Homo sapiens: one gene and its partners. The protein of the gene in region 1 purifies or fractionates together with the protein of each later gene. This does not show direct contact. Each region holds a gene or a part of one and is shown in the gene's direction. Other genes may lie near its edges.

Evidence for each region.
Region 2: the proteins of REV1 (region 1) and POLN purify together in Homo sapiens (affinity purification with western blotting, with the first as the bait; one study listed by BioGRID). This does not show direct contact.
Region 3: the proteins of REV1 (region 1) and CTH purify together in Homo sapiens (affinity purification with western blotting; one study listed by BioGRID). This does not show direct contact.

Annotation. Positions count from the first base shown.
Region 1 is NC_000002.12:99,487,150-99,491,285, reverse strand, and holds the start of REV1 (DNA repair protein REV1), read left to right. Parts: upstream 1-1,268; 5' UTR 1,269-1,469; intron 1,470-1,874; exon of another isoform or gene 1,875-4,136. UniProt on the Homo sapiens protein: Deoxycytidyl transferase involved in DNA repair. Transfers a dCMP residue from dCTP to the 3'-end of a DNA primer in a template-dependent reaction.
Region 2 is NC_000004.12:2,071,301-2,074,798, reverse strand, and holds the end of POLN (DNA polymerase nu), read left to right. Parts: intron 1-1,769; coding exon 1,770-1,831; intron 1,832-2,499; coding exon 2,500-2,685; 3' UTR 2,686-2,881; downstream 2,882-3,498. UniProt on the Homo sapiens protein: DNA polymerase with very low fidelity that catalyzes considerable misincorporation by inserting dTTP opposite a G template, and dGTP opposite a T template. Is the least accurate of the DNA polymerase A family (i.e. POLG, POLN and POLQ).
Region 3 is NC_000001.11:70,431,649-70,435,294, forward strand, and holds part of CTH (cystathionine gamma-lyase), read left to right. Parts: intron 1-434; coding exon 435-587; intron 588-2,179; coding exon 2,180-2,301; intron 2,302-3,476; coding exon 3,477-3,529; intron 3,530-3,646. UniProt on the Homo sapiens protein: Catalyzes the last step in the trans-sulfuration pathway from L-methionine to L-cysteine in a pyridoxal-5'-phosphate (PLP)-dependent manner, which consists on cleaving the L,L-cystathionine molecule into L-cysteine, ammonia and 2-oxobutanoate.

The DNA of each region.
Region 1 (4,136 bases):
AAGAAAGCAATTACGCAATTTGTTTTAAATTATGACGTCTTTGAAAAGTATGCAATCTAAATTCGTTGGATTAGCGACGAGAATACTGAAGTTGAAGTGCATTTATAGAAGTCTATAAAATGGCAAAAAACTGAAAGGGAAAGAAATGAGCTATTTGAGTATTCTCTGTGTTGCTAGTAAACAAGTTCCAACTCTGCAAATCAGTTTTCAAAAGAATACTGATTGTTTCCTAAGTACCTGCAAACTCTGAAGCATTTTAGGCAAGGGAATGAGTGGGAAAAAAGTATCTTCATGTTTGTGCATTACAACAATAAAGACTATTATGTAACAATGTGGAGTCTTCAAAGCGACCCTGCCAAGAGGGAGAAAGTGGTCCTTATGGACGGATTGTTTTCTGCTAGAAGGCCCTCAATTAGAATTGTACTTACGCATACATAATATAGGATATTATTTTTATATTCATAGAAAACTGCTTTCTCGGGTAACTCCAGCGCTGTACATGGGATGGGATACCGGCCCTCCGTTTACAAATACTCAGGCGCAATGCTGCCCGGGCACTCAAAGGACAGAAGATAGTGTCTGTGCCCTGCGGGAGCAGGCCACGAATCCCGAAAACGCCGTGGCGCAGTGCTCCTTCCCGCGAACCTGAGTGGGCCGTGGTTCTCGGTTGCTCTGGACATAGGAAAATGTCAGTTCATGTGTGTCCCTTTCTCCACTAGATGTCACTGTAAATCAATTGCTTAAGGAGGGAACCCGGGCGTCTGGCGCATCTTCACACAGTACCGGGGTTTGAAGCCCGGTCAGTGTCTGCACTTGTGTCCTTCCCCACTGGGGAGCCCCAAGGCGGGGCAGGCGCGGGGACTCGCTGTGCACGGAGCGGCGCGCTGTCCGAATGGCAACCGAAGAGCCGCGACCCGGTCAACGAAGCGCGGGGGTGACCGGAGCAGGACGGGCGGGCAGGCGGCGCAGTGCGTGGGCGGGCCCGCGCTGCGCTCCCCTCCGCCCAGCTAGCGAGACGGTCACGTGCCGCCCAGGCGCTGCCCCTTGCGGGCGGCTGCAGAACAACAGGGCGGGGCCGGGGAGGGGAGGAACACGGAGGCCGACGCCGGGCGCCGCGGTGCTACGCCCGAGGCTGGGGTCGCCCCGGGCCGGGGGGAGCAGAGCGCGTGCGCCGCGCGGCTGTGAGCGCGAGCGGGGCCGGGGAGCGCGCGCGGAACGCTAGGGGGCGTGGCTGCGGCGCGCGCGCTAACCGGAGGGGGAGGGGCGGAGAGCCACCGCGGAGCGCGCGCGGGGTTGGTTGCCGCGAGCGTGGGGGAGCGTGGACCGCGGCGCTGCTCAGCGGTGGGGCTGCCTTCCCCCGGCCCTCCTCCCTGGTCCCTGGCGAGGGCACTGGCGGCGGCGGGGCCGGGGTCCGCAAGGCCGGAGAAGGCCGCCGGGCCCGGGCATGGTGGTCTGGGGCAACGCGGAAGGTGAGCGACCCCCGGGCCGGCGGCGGGGTGGGGGAGGGGCGGGATCGGACACGCGTCGCCCGGAGGCGCCGCAGACCCGCCCGGCAGCGGCCAGAGCGCGGTCGGCCTGAGGTGGCGCGGGGGAGGGGTGCGTCGCCCCGGCCCCGGCCCGCGGCCGTCCTGTCGCGGCCTGGGCTGTCCACGGCGCCTTCCCCTGACGCTCGCAGCCGCCGGGTTATGTAATGTGTGACCTCCCCTCCCCTTCCCTTCCGTCATGGCGCGGCCGGCCCCGCGCCGCCGCCAGCCCCATGGGCCGCCCCGCGCCGACCCCTGGCGCAGCGGCCCTTCCCTCCGCGCCCGGCCGCATCCCGCCGGCCCGGTCAGACCGCGCCGCAAACTCCTTCCTCCTGCGCCGGCGCCTCGGCCGGCCATTCAGTTCCGCGCCATTCATTCACGCGCGCGTTCGGGCGTTCGTTCCACAAGCGTTTGTAGAATGTCGACCCGGTCGAGCCGCCGCTCCCACCCGCACTCCAGCCACAGCGTTTTTCCGCACCCCGCCTTCGACGTCCCCGGTGCATCCCAGAACCGGTCGGAATGTCCGAAGGCGGTTGTTGCTCCCTTGTTTTTCCTTGCTGCTTGTCCGTTCGCTAAATACGCTGGGCGCCGTTCCCCAACTGTCCTTCCGAGAGCCCCTTGCCCACTTCTGTACTGTTACAGTGACGCCGCTCTGGGCGCACCGAGCCGCGCTGTGTTTCGCTGCTCTTCCTACCTATTCTCAGTTTGTAAAGAAATAATCTCACATAACACTCCTTAATGTACTCCTCCGTAAGATAAATTGCAGATAATATACGTCTGCTAATTCTCTTTATCTCCACGTCTTCTCACGCCATGTACTAAGTAGAAATGGTTTCATTTAGGTGAAAATAATGCAGACTAGCACATAGCACAACAAGGGCTTGTAACTATTAAGGACTTTATGTAACAGTCTGTAATTCTGTGTATCTGTCTGGTCTTTCCGGACTTGGCACTTTAGTCTCCGAGAATAAGCCATTTCCTGTTTAGGTAGGGTAGGACCAACCATAACCTTGGTTCTTTCTATGGAGTTCTGTATGTAGCAAATCAGCCTGTGGGAACCATCTATCTGTCCACCAACCTTTCACACATATTCTTGGGTTTGCCCGTGCAGGGACCAGTGCTGCGTATTGTTCCCTGCCTTCCTGTACTGGACACTTAAGAGCTCACCTAAAGTTCCTCTTCCAGGAATCATTCTCCAGTATACAAGGCTCTCTTCCATTCAATTCTTAGGCTATTTGCGCCTTTTCCTGTGTTGCGTTTATCTTTTTAGCCCTGTCTTCTCTTACTGTGTAGGACCTTTTGAGGGTAGAGTCTGTACCAAACTCCTATCTTTTGTTGTAGAACCTTAACCGCTATTTTACGGTAAACCGTACATATTTAATTTTTTTTGTAAAGATGGGAATTGCTCTTTTAAAATTAATTTCTATGAGGTCTCAAGTAGAACATAATTTTTAAAAAATAATGTGCTTGAATATATAAGATCACTACATTTCCAACTTCCCACTCGCAACTTCAAAACTCTGATTCTACATAAGAGCATTAAGGAAACGTTGTCCTCACCAGCAACAAACTGGTCATTATTCATAAGAAGTTGCAGTGACTACATATAATATATATTTGAAAGCACTTTCTTTGATAGCTGCTGTAGTGGAAAGACAGGAAGTTCACAGTTACATGGAGGTTAGATTTCTGGCCCTACAAATTGTTAGCTGGTGACTGGACAAGTTAAGTTACTAGTATCTCTGATTTTTTCTCGTTTGTAGAATGAAGATACCATTTCCCACCTTGGGTAGCTGAGGATTAAATCAGTTCTTAAACGTGAGACATCTAGTGACACCATGGTACTCAGGAGGTGCTCAGTAAATACATATTCCCTTTGGTATACCTGTTTATTGCAGTTCACAATCTAGAATGAGCCAGGATGTGCTAGAGACAAAGCGTGAGAGGAAAGGTAATCAGAAGAGGTGACAGGTACCTCTCGTCTCCAAATAAATGAACAAGTCCTACACTAAAGAGCATTGTGGGTCTTTCTGCTTTTCAAGAATGTATGGGTGTGTATATGTGGCGTATTACTAATCATAGAGTATATTAAACAGAACATTTAAAAATGAAAAGTTTTTTTTTACTATAATAGCACCAACTGAAGCGTTAACATGGACATTAAAAAATAATCTTATTTTTTTCCAAAGGCAAGTCAGGAGACGAGACGGGAAAAGGGATATTAAAAAGGCTCTTTAGAGGCAATTAGGTTGCAGGCTCTTCTGTTAGCATCTACTTATAAACAGTACATGAATCCTAGTCTAAGTTCCATTATCTCTTGGTTGGAGTGTTTCCATAGTGCCTTTACTGGTTTATTTCTCTTGCTCCCTGACTGTTCCCTAGGGATTCACCTTGACAACCAGAGGGATCTTTTTAAAAATGTAAATCAGATTGTCACTTTCTTGCTTAGTGTCCTCTAAAAGCATCCTGTGAACCACTTACATTTGAATCTTAGTCGCCATCAGGGCATAGCATGATTTGGCAGCTGCCAGCTTCTAACGTTACCTCTTACTAGGTGACTGACTTTCAGCAACCTACCCCAGTCCCATAGTCATTTTGCCGGTTCTTGAACAA
Region 2 (3,498 bases), on another chromosome or scaffold:
CACGTGGACCTGTGCCCCCAGTTCTCCAGGCCAGGTCTGTAAACAGCCGGGGCAGCTTCACGTGTTGGGAGAAGAGGCACGGGGGCGTCAGGGCTGGAAGCTTCAGGCACCAACTCTCGAGTGGTGGTCGCCATGCCCTCCTAGCCCCACCCTCTCCAGGCCTTACCCTTAGGGGTGTGAGGCTCCCATCCCTGGGGCCCACCCAGACCACTCCATCCTAAAGCAGGGCTCTGCCACTTGAAAAGTATGTCCAGCCACTCATTTGAAAACACACCCACCTTACGTGACCATTTAACAAGTATAACGTGTGCTCAGCTGTAGGTTAAAAAAGGAAAGAAAACGTTCCCAAACGGCCTTGTTCCCGGGAGCAGCTTCCTCCAGCTGGCCTGGCAGCTCCTGAGGCAGGCTGCAGCCTGTGCTCTGCTCTCTCAGGAGCACTCGGGGCCAGGGACTGCAGGGCCTGGGGAACCAGGGGTCGGGCGGGGCCTGCACCATCCCTGAAGGGCTGGGGGTCAGGTCATATCTCCCAGGCGGTGTGTAGCGCCCAGCATCTCTGCCCTGCCTGCCCTCCCGAGGGCCCCACAGGGAGCGCTCCAGCTGAGTGCCAGCTCAGCCCCACGCTTGCTGCCCCTCTCTGAGCAGCAGTTGCTTGGGATCACCCGCTCAGTCAACAGCACCACCCCACCAGGCACAGAAGAGGGACCAGTTCTCTGCATACTCAGGGTAGCCCCAGCCAGCATGAGGAGCCAATGGTCCAGCTTGGCCTGGGCCGGCTCTCCAGCCTCGCCCCCATAAGAAGGTCCCCAGGGGGGCCCAGGTCCTTCTGCAGGGCTCCCCACCATGCACATGGGCCGTGTGCCCACCTGCTGGCCGACAGCTCCCTGCAGACGGTGACCGGCTCCTGCACAGAAGACATTGAGGGCCACAGAGCTTGGGTGGCCGCTGGCCCTGCTCAGGACACACCAGGGACAGGTCCCCAGGGAGACCCTCGCTCTGCTGGGGCCAGCAGGGCTGGAAAGTGAGGTGGCGCCCACCACGGCTTGGGGCTCCTGCCGCCATCTTTGCATTGCAGTGTCACACAGCACAAAAGGACTGAACGAATGTTTATCCAGGGGCTCCAGGTTTCAGAGCAAGCCCTGAGAAAGCCTGAGCTTGCGGGTCCCACCTCTGGCCCCTGCCCAGGCCTTCCCTTTCGTAGGGCTCTGAGCCCCACTGCTGCATGGTGATCCACGCCCCAACAACGGGGTCAGCCTGCCTGTGGCACAAAGCCACTGTTGCCTCAAACTTCACCGGGCAGTAGTGGGGATGGGGGGTTCTTGTGTGCCTGGTGGCTCTGGCTGGTGGGGGCTCCCTGTGCCTCCCCCATCCTCCCAGCCCCAGTGGCTCTGGAACAGAGCTGGCATGACGCCTGCCCCACCCCATGGCCCCCAGCTGGGGTGAGCTGAGCCGGAGGGGTAGGGGTGAGGGCCAGTGCAGTGTGGTGGGCCAGGCCAGGAGGAGGGGCTGCAGCGAGGGCCAAGGGGCCTGCGAGAGGCATCCTGGACTGTGGATGGGGCCGGGGGAGCTGGACTCAGCCTCAGGGGCTGGGCACTCAGGGGCTCCTTGTGGGCATTAAGGTCCCACAGCTGGTTCAGGTGACCGAGTGGACACAGGAAACAAGGGGGCTCAGGGGCCGGGGCAGGACTCGGGCCTGAAAGTTCTCTTATCTTCGGCTCCCAGGCCCCAAGGCCAAGAGACCAGCAGGGCCTCCTCTCTCTTCCGCACTCTAGCTCTCGTCAGGAGGACCATGGAGTCCTTGGAACAGGTGCAGGCATTGGAGCTGCAGCTTCAGGTGAGGGGACACTTAAGCCTGCCCGGTCTTCCGGAGCCCAGGGTGAGGGGAGGCCAGCACCCCCAGGGCAAAAGAGCCAGGCCAAAGGGTGCAGCCCCAGCCCCGAGATGGCCACTCCACAGCAGGCACAGCCGTGGAGGCTGGACCGTCCCTGAAGCCCGGGAAGCCCCACCCGACTCTGCTCACTTCAGTGAACAGGGACGGCAGCCGGGGCTGGACCCCTCCCTCCCTGTCAAGAGCTGTGAAGGCTTGGTCCACTCAAGGTCAGGGACCCCCGGGAGGGCTCTCCTGGCCTCTAGGAGCCACCAATCCTCCCGGGGGCAGGACCCTGAGGGGCAAGCACAGGATGCCCCAGGACACACCCACCCATCCAAGGGCACCTTGTCTGCCGGCCGCAGCCTACCCACTGGCACAGAGGCCCTGGCAGGTGGGGGAACCTCCGCCAAGATCGAGGTGTCGTGACTGGGAGGTGGATGTGGCATAAGCCTGTTGCTGGGCGAGTGTGGTGAGTGTGCACGTGTATGCACATGTGTGCGTGTGGCTGTCTGATCATGTATCTGGATGTGTGCACCTGTGTGCTGTAGGCCCTGTCCCCCTGCTTGGGGTCTGGGAGGTGGCTGGGGGTGGCTGGCCCAGGCGTGGGGCTCACCTCTGGCTGCCACCTGCAGGTACCCCTCAAGGTGAGCCTGAGTGCCGGCCGCTCATGGGGACACCTGGTGCCACTGCAGGAGGCCTGGGGCCCTCCGCCAGGCCCATGTCGCACTGAGTCTCCCAGCAACAGCCTGGCTGCCCCTGGGTCCCCTGCCAGCACCCAGCCCCCACCCCTGCATTTTTCGCCTTCATTTTGTCTGTAGCCCCAGGCAACAGTGGGAGGAGAGAACTGGTTTCCAGCAGTCCATTGTGTGGCCTTCCCCAAGGTCACCAGCTCTGTACGCCCCAGGACGCATTAACCCTTTGGGGCTGGGGTGGCCCGCCATCCCCTGGAGTAAATGCCTGTGCAAAGCCCTCCTCATCCTTGTCTGAGTGAATTCTTCCTGTGAGTGGGAAGTGCCGCGTCCACCACCCCCAGCCACTTGGCCGGGGCAGGGCTGAGTGCCCCCAGTTGGGAGTGACCCAGGCTGGGTCTGGGCCAGACACTCCAGACTGGGTAGGCACTCCCAGCTCCCTCTCCCATGGATTCCAGGGGAGGGGGCTGCCTCGTGGCTCAGCAGCTGCTCCCCCCGGCAGGTGTCCAAGAAGCCACCAGCTCTGACGCCCTATGGTGTCACCCCCTGCTGGCTCCCTTCGCTTTAGGAAGCCATGGCCCAGGGCGTGCACCGTCCTCCCAGGCCAGCCCAGCGTGCAGCCCTGTACTGAGATGGAGAGAACACAGCCTCCCCGCAGGCACTGAGGCCCCTAGAGCTTGTGTTCCCGACTGATGTGTCAGGAGGACCAGAGGAGCCCCTCTATGAGAAGACCTGGCCACCCACTGCAGGCCTCCCCCATGGATGCAGCCTAGGGGCCACCGAGGACCCGCGGGCGTCTGGGGTCACATGCTCTCAGGCCACAAGGTCTCTCCCATGAGCCTCCTGCAGGCTAGTGACCAGTGGCTGCAAACAGGCTGGCTCCTGAGACAGCCAGTGCTCCAAGCAGCTCCTCCAGACTCTTCCCGTCCCACGTGCCCCTCT
Region 3 (3,646 bases), on another chromosome or scaffold:
ATCATTGACCGCTTTGCACAAAGGCTAAATAGAATATTAGTAGAATATTCAGTAATAATAGGACTTGAACTGCTGTTTTTCTCTGTATGTTAAAATAATTTTTCAAAGAAATACAAGGTTAGGCTATGAACAATTTATGATTTTATTAAAATCATAGAAAGGACTACTTATCTTCATATTTGAGAAGTTTATATCATTGTGCTTTTACTTAGTTTTCAGCATATTTGCTTCCCCTCATTTTAAAGTAAATTTCTCTAAGCATATTCTATGCTTTGTTCTTCTGCTTCTGATTTGATATATTATTTTCCTCCTAGAACTCAAACATTGAGCTTTACACCTAGCTTCTGAGAGTCACTGTAATGGAAAAGAGAAGCCAGATAATTTCTTGGCCATACCCTGCCTTCAAACTTATCCAGGATGTGTTCATTTTGCAGCTCTTGGAGCAGTTCCATCTCCTATTGATTGTTACCTCTGCAATCGAGGTCTGAAGACTCTACATGTCCGAATGGAAAAGCATTTCAAAAACGGAATGGCAGTTGCCCAGTTCCTGGAATCTAATCCTTGGGTAGAAAAGGTTATTTATCCTGGTATGTTAATTTGATTTCTAAGCAGATCTACTAGGATTTCAGCAGTTATCCTGAGCATCGTGTTTATGTAACATTTATTTGTAAGTTAGGTGCTTTCACGTATTGTTTTTGTTCATTTATTATTGAGCACTGCCATGTGTCAGGCTCTGTGGTGGGTCAGGTGGAAAGAAGATAGACCTGGTCTCTACTGTTGTATTGCCTCTAGTTTAGTGGATGCTTGGATAGTAGAAAATCAGTTTTATGCATTAGTTGTTCCTGTGGTGGTCTGTGATTTGAAGGCTTGTGTATACCTATTCAAAGATTTTAACATTAGACTTTTCAGTTGATTTGCTTATAATCTTGTCTGTCTGCTATTCAGCATTAGCTGTCACTTTAATCTGATAGAGGTTTGTCCCAGTTGAGACTTGATATTAGGTGCTAAAATTCCCCTGAGGTTCTCTCTCTCTCTTTTTTTTTTTTTTTTTTTTTGAGACGGAGTTTCACTCTTGCCCAGGCTGGAGTGCAATGATGCAATTTCAGCTCACTGCAACCTCTGCCTCCCGGGTTCAAGTGATTCTCTTGCCTCAGCCTCCCGAGTAGCTGGGATTACAGGTGCCCGCCACCACGCCCAGCTATTTTTTGTATTTTTAGTAAAGACGGGGTTTCACCATGTTGGCCAGTCTGGTCTCGAACTCCTGACCTCAGGTGATCTGCCTGCCTTGGCCTCTCAAAGTGCTGGGATTACAGGCGTGAGCCACTACGCCCAGCCCCCTGAGGTTCTCTCCTGTATTTCTCTCCTGTATTTTTATTCCTTCACCTCTTCCAGCATCTAGAAAGTCTTCTGTGGAGTTGGCTGACTTACATCTTACTTTTTGAATTTATTTTTACCAGTCTTTTAAGCTGTGGTGGTCCTAAGTAGTTCTTTTCTTTTTAGATCCTTTTGAGGGTTCTAGCATCTAGAATATATAGAAAAATTAAGACTGGAATTTCACTAGGAAATTCACAAGGAATTTAGAGAAACCAAAGCGAAATACATATGAAACTAAATGCCCTAAAGGTACTTTAGGTAAAGAGCTGTTGATTGATATATATTTTGGATGGAGGGAGAGAGAAGAGTTTTGAGCTATGCCATGAAGAATGGGCAGCATTGGTTAAAAGGGCATAGACAAGGTATTGGAGATTTATTCAAGAAATTTTTATTAAACGCCAGCTATGAGCCAGGCTTTGCACTAGGAACTGGGATCCAATTAGTAACAAAAGAAATGGATTTGCCCTCATGGAGCAACTCTGGTGGCTAAGACAGATACTAAGCAAGAAATTACAGGATATAATTAACAAGGGAAGTCCAGGTTGAAGGGACAGCATGTGCAAAGGTCCTGAGATGAAAGGGAGTGCAGTGGTGCTGGCATAAAGAAAGCTGAAGAGGGTAGAAAAGATGAGGCAACATGAAGCTGGAGAGATAGGGGCCCAAGCAAGTAGTCAGATGTGAGCATGGCATAATCCTCGTCTTAGGCTTATTTGCAGTTAAGTAGACAGTGAAAAATACCACCCTCCCCCCCCAAAAATTACATGTTTAATTCTAAAATAAGACTTATGATACCTTATGATTACAGGGCTGCCCTCTCATCCACAGCATGAGTTGGTGAAGCGTCAGTGTACAGGTTGTACAGGGATGGTCACCTTTTATATTAAGGGCACTCTTCAGCATGCTGAGATTTTCCTCAAGAACCTAAAGGTAAACTTACAAAATAGGTTTAAAATTGTAGGAGGTAAGGCCTTACAGCAGTTCACTATCTCTCACTTCTACTCAAGCCAGATAATGTTTTTGTATCTGCAGGTTACACTCATAAACCTCTTTATCATGAAATGCATTGGGTTGAAAACAACTTAAACAACAATGTAGCAGACATCTAAATATGTTCACTTACTTAACTCTCCACATACTACAATCAGTTTGGAGACACAGAGTATTCTAATGCATTTATTTAAAAGTGAACCCCTTTTTTCAGATGAAATAGGTAAAACCTCGAAGTAGTGTGCAGTTAGTGCACTGCACAAGGGCTGTTCTAAAATCCATCCTGTGAATGGCTTTCCAAACCCTGTGCCTCCTAAGCTGCATCTGACTGGGGTGAGGCCTTTGTCTAATTTTCAAAAAGCCAGGAGGAGGCTCTCAGGGGCCTTGAGCAAGAGGCCTGTCCAACTCCATACACTGGGCTTAACCTTGAGCTCATGCAGTTTATATACTACAGAATAGATTAACAGAAAGCTGCCAGATTAGTCAAAGTGTTCCTGGTGTCACCTTAATTTAATACATTTACCAAAGTAACTTTTAAAACATTTGTAAAGTTTTATGACACTATCACACTCAACATAAAAACAGTGGTTTTTTTTTTTTCCCCTATTCCAGCAGGGATTTAAAGGATGTATTTCATAAGTGATATATATTAACAAGGAAGTATGTATAACTTGGGAAGCATTTAGAGATTTTTTTATTTAAGTGGTAACCACAGAGCAAAGTCTCAAATGCAATAATTTTTTTTTTTTTTTTTTTTTTTTTAGGCAGAGTTTCACTCTTTTGCCCAGACTGGAGTTCAGTGGCATGATCTCGGCTCACTGCAACCTCCACCTCCTGGGTTGAAGTGATACTCCTGCTTCAGCCTTCCAGGTAGCTGGGATTACAGGTGCGTGCCACCATGCTCAGCTAATTTTTGTATTTTTAGTAGAGATGGGGTTTCACTAGTTGGCCAGGCTGGTCTCGAACTCCTGACCTCGGTGATCCGCCTGACTTGGCCTCCCAAAGTGCTGGGATTACAGGCATGAGCCACTGTGCCTGGCCTAAAAACATTTATTTTTAGATTTTAGTATTTTTATTTTACTAGAAAATCTAAATTCATGTTTTCTTTGCTATAGCTATTTACTCTGGCCGAGAGCTTGGGAGGATTCGAAAGCCTTGCTGAGCTTCCGTAAGTATAGTTCTGTTTTTCTCAGTATTTTAAATTTGATGTCAGCTTTAATGATTGGGAAAGAAATATGATAAGGTCAGGGATAATTCAAGATATTTAACAATAAGAATAGCAGGA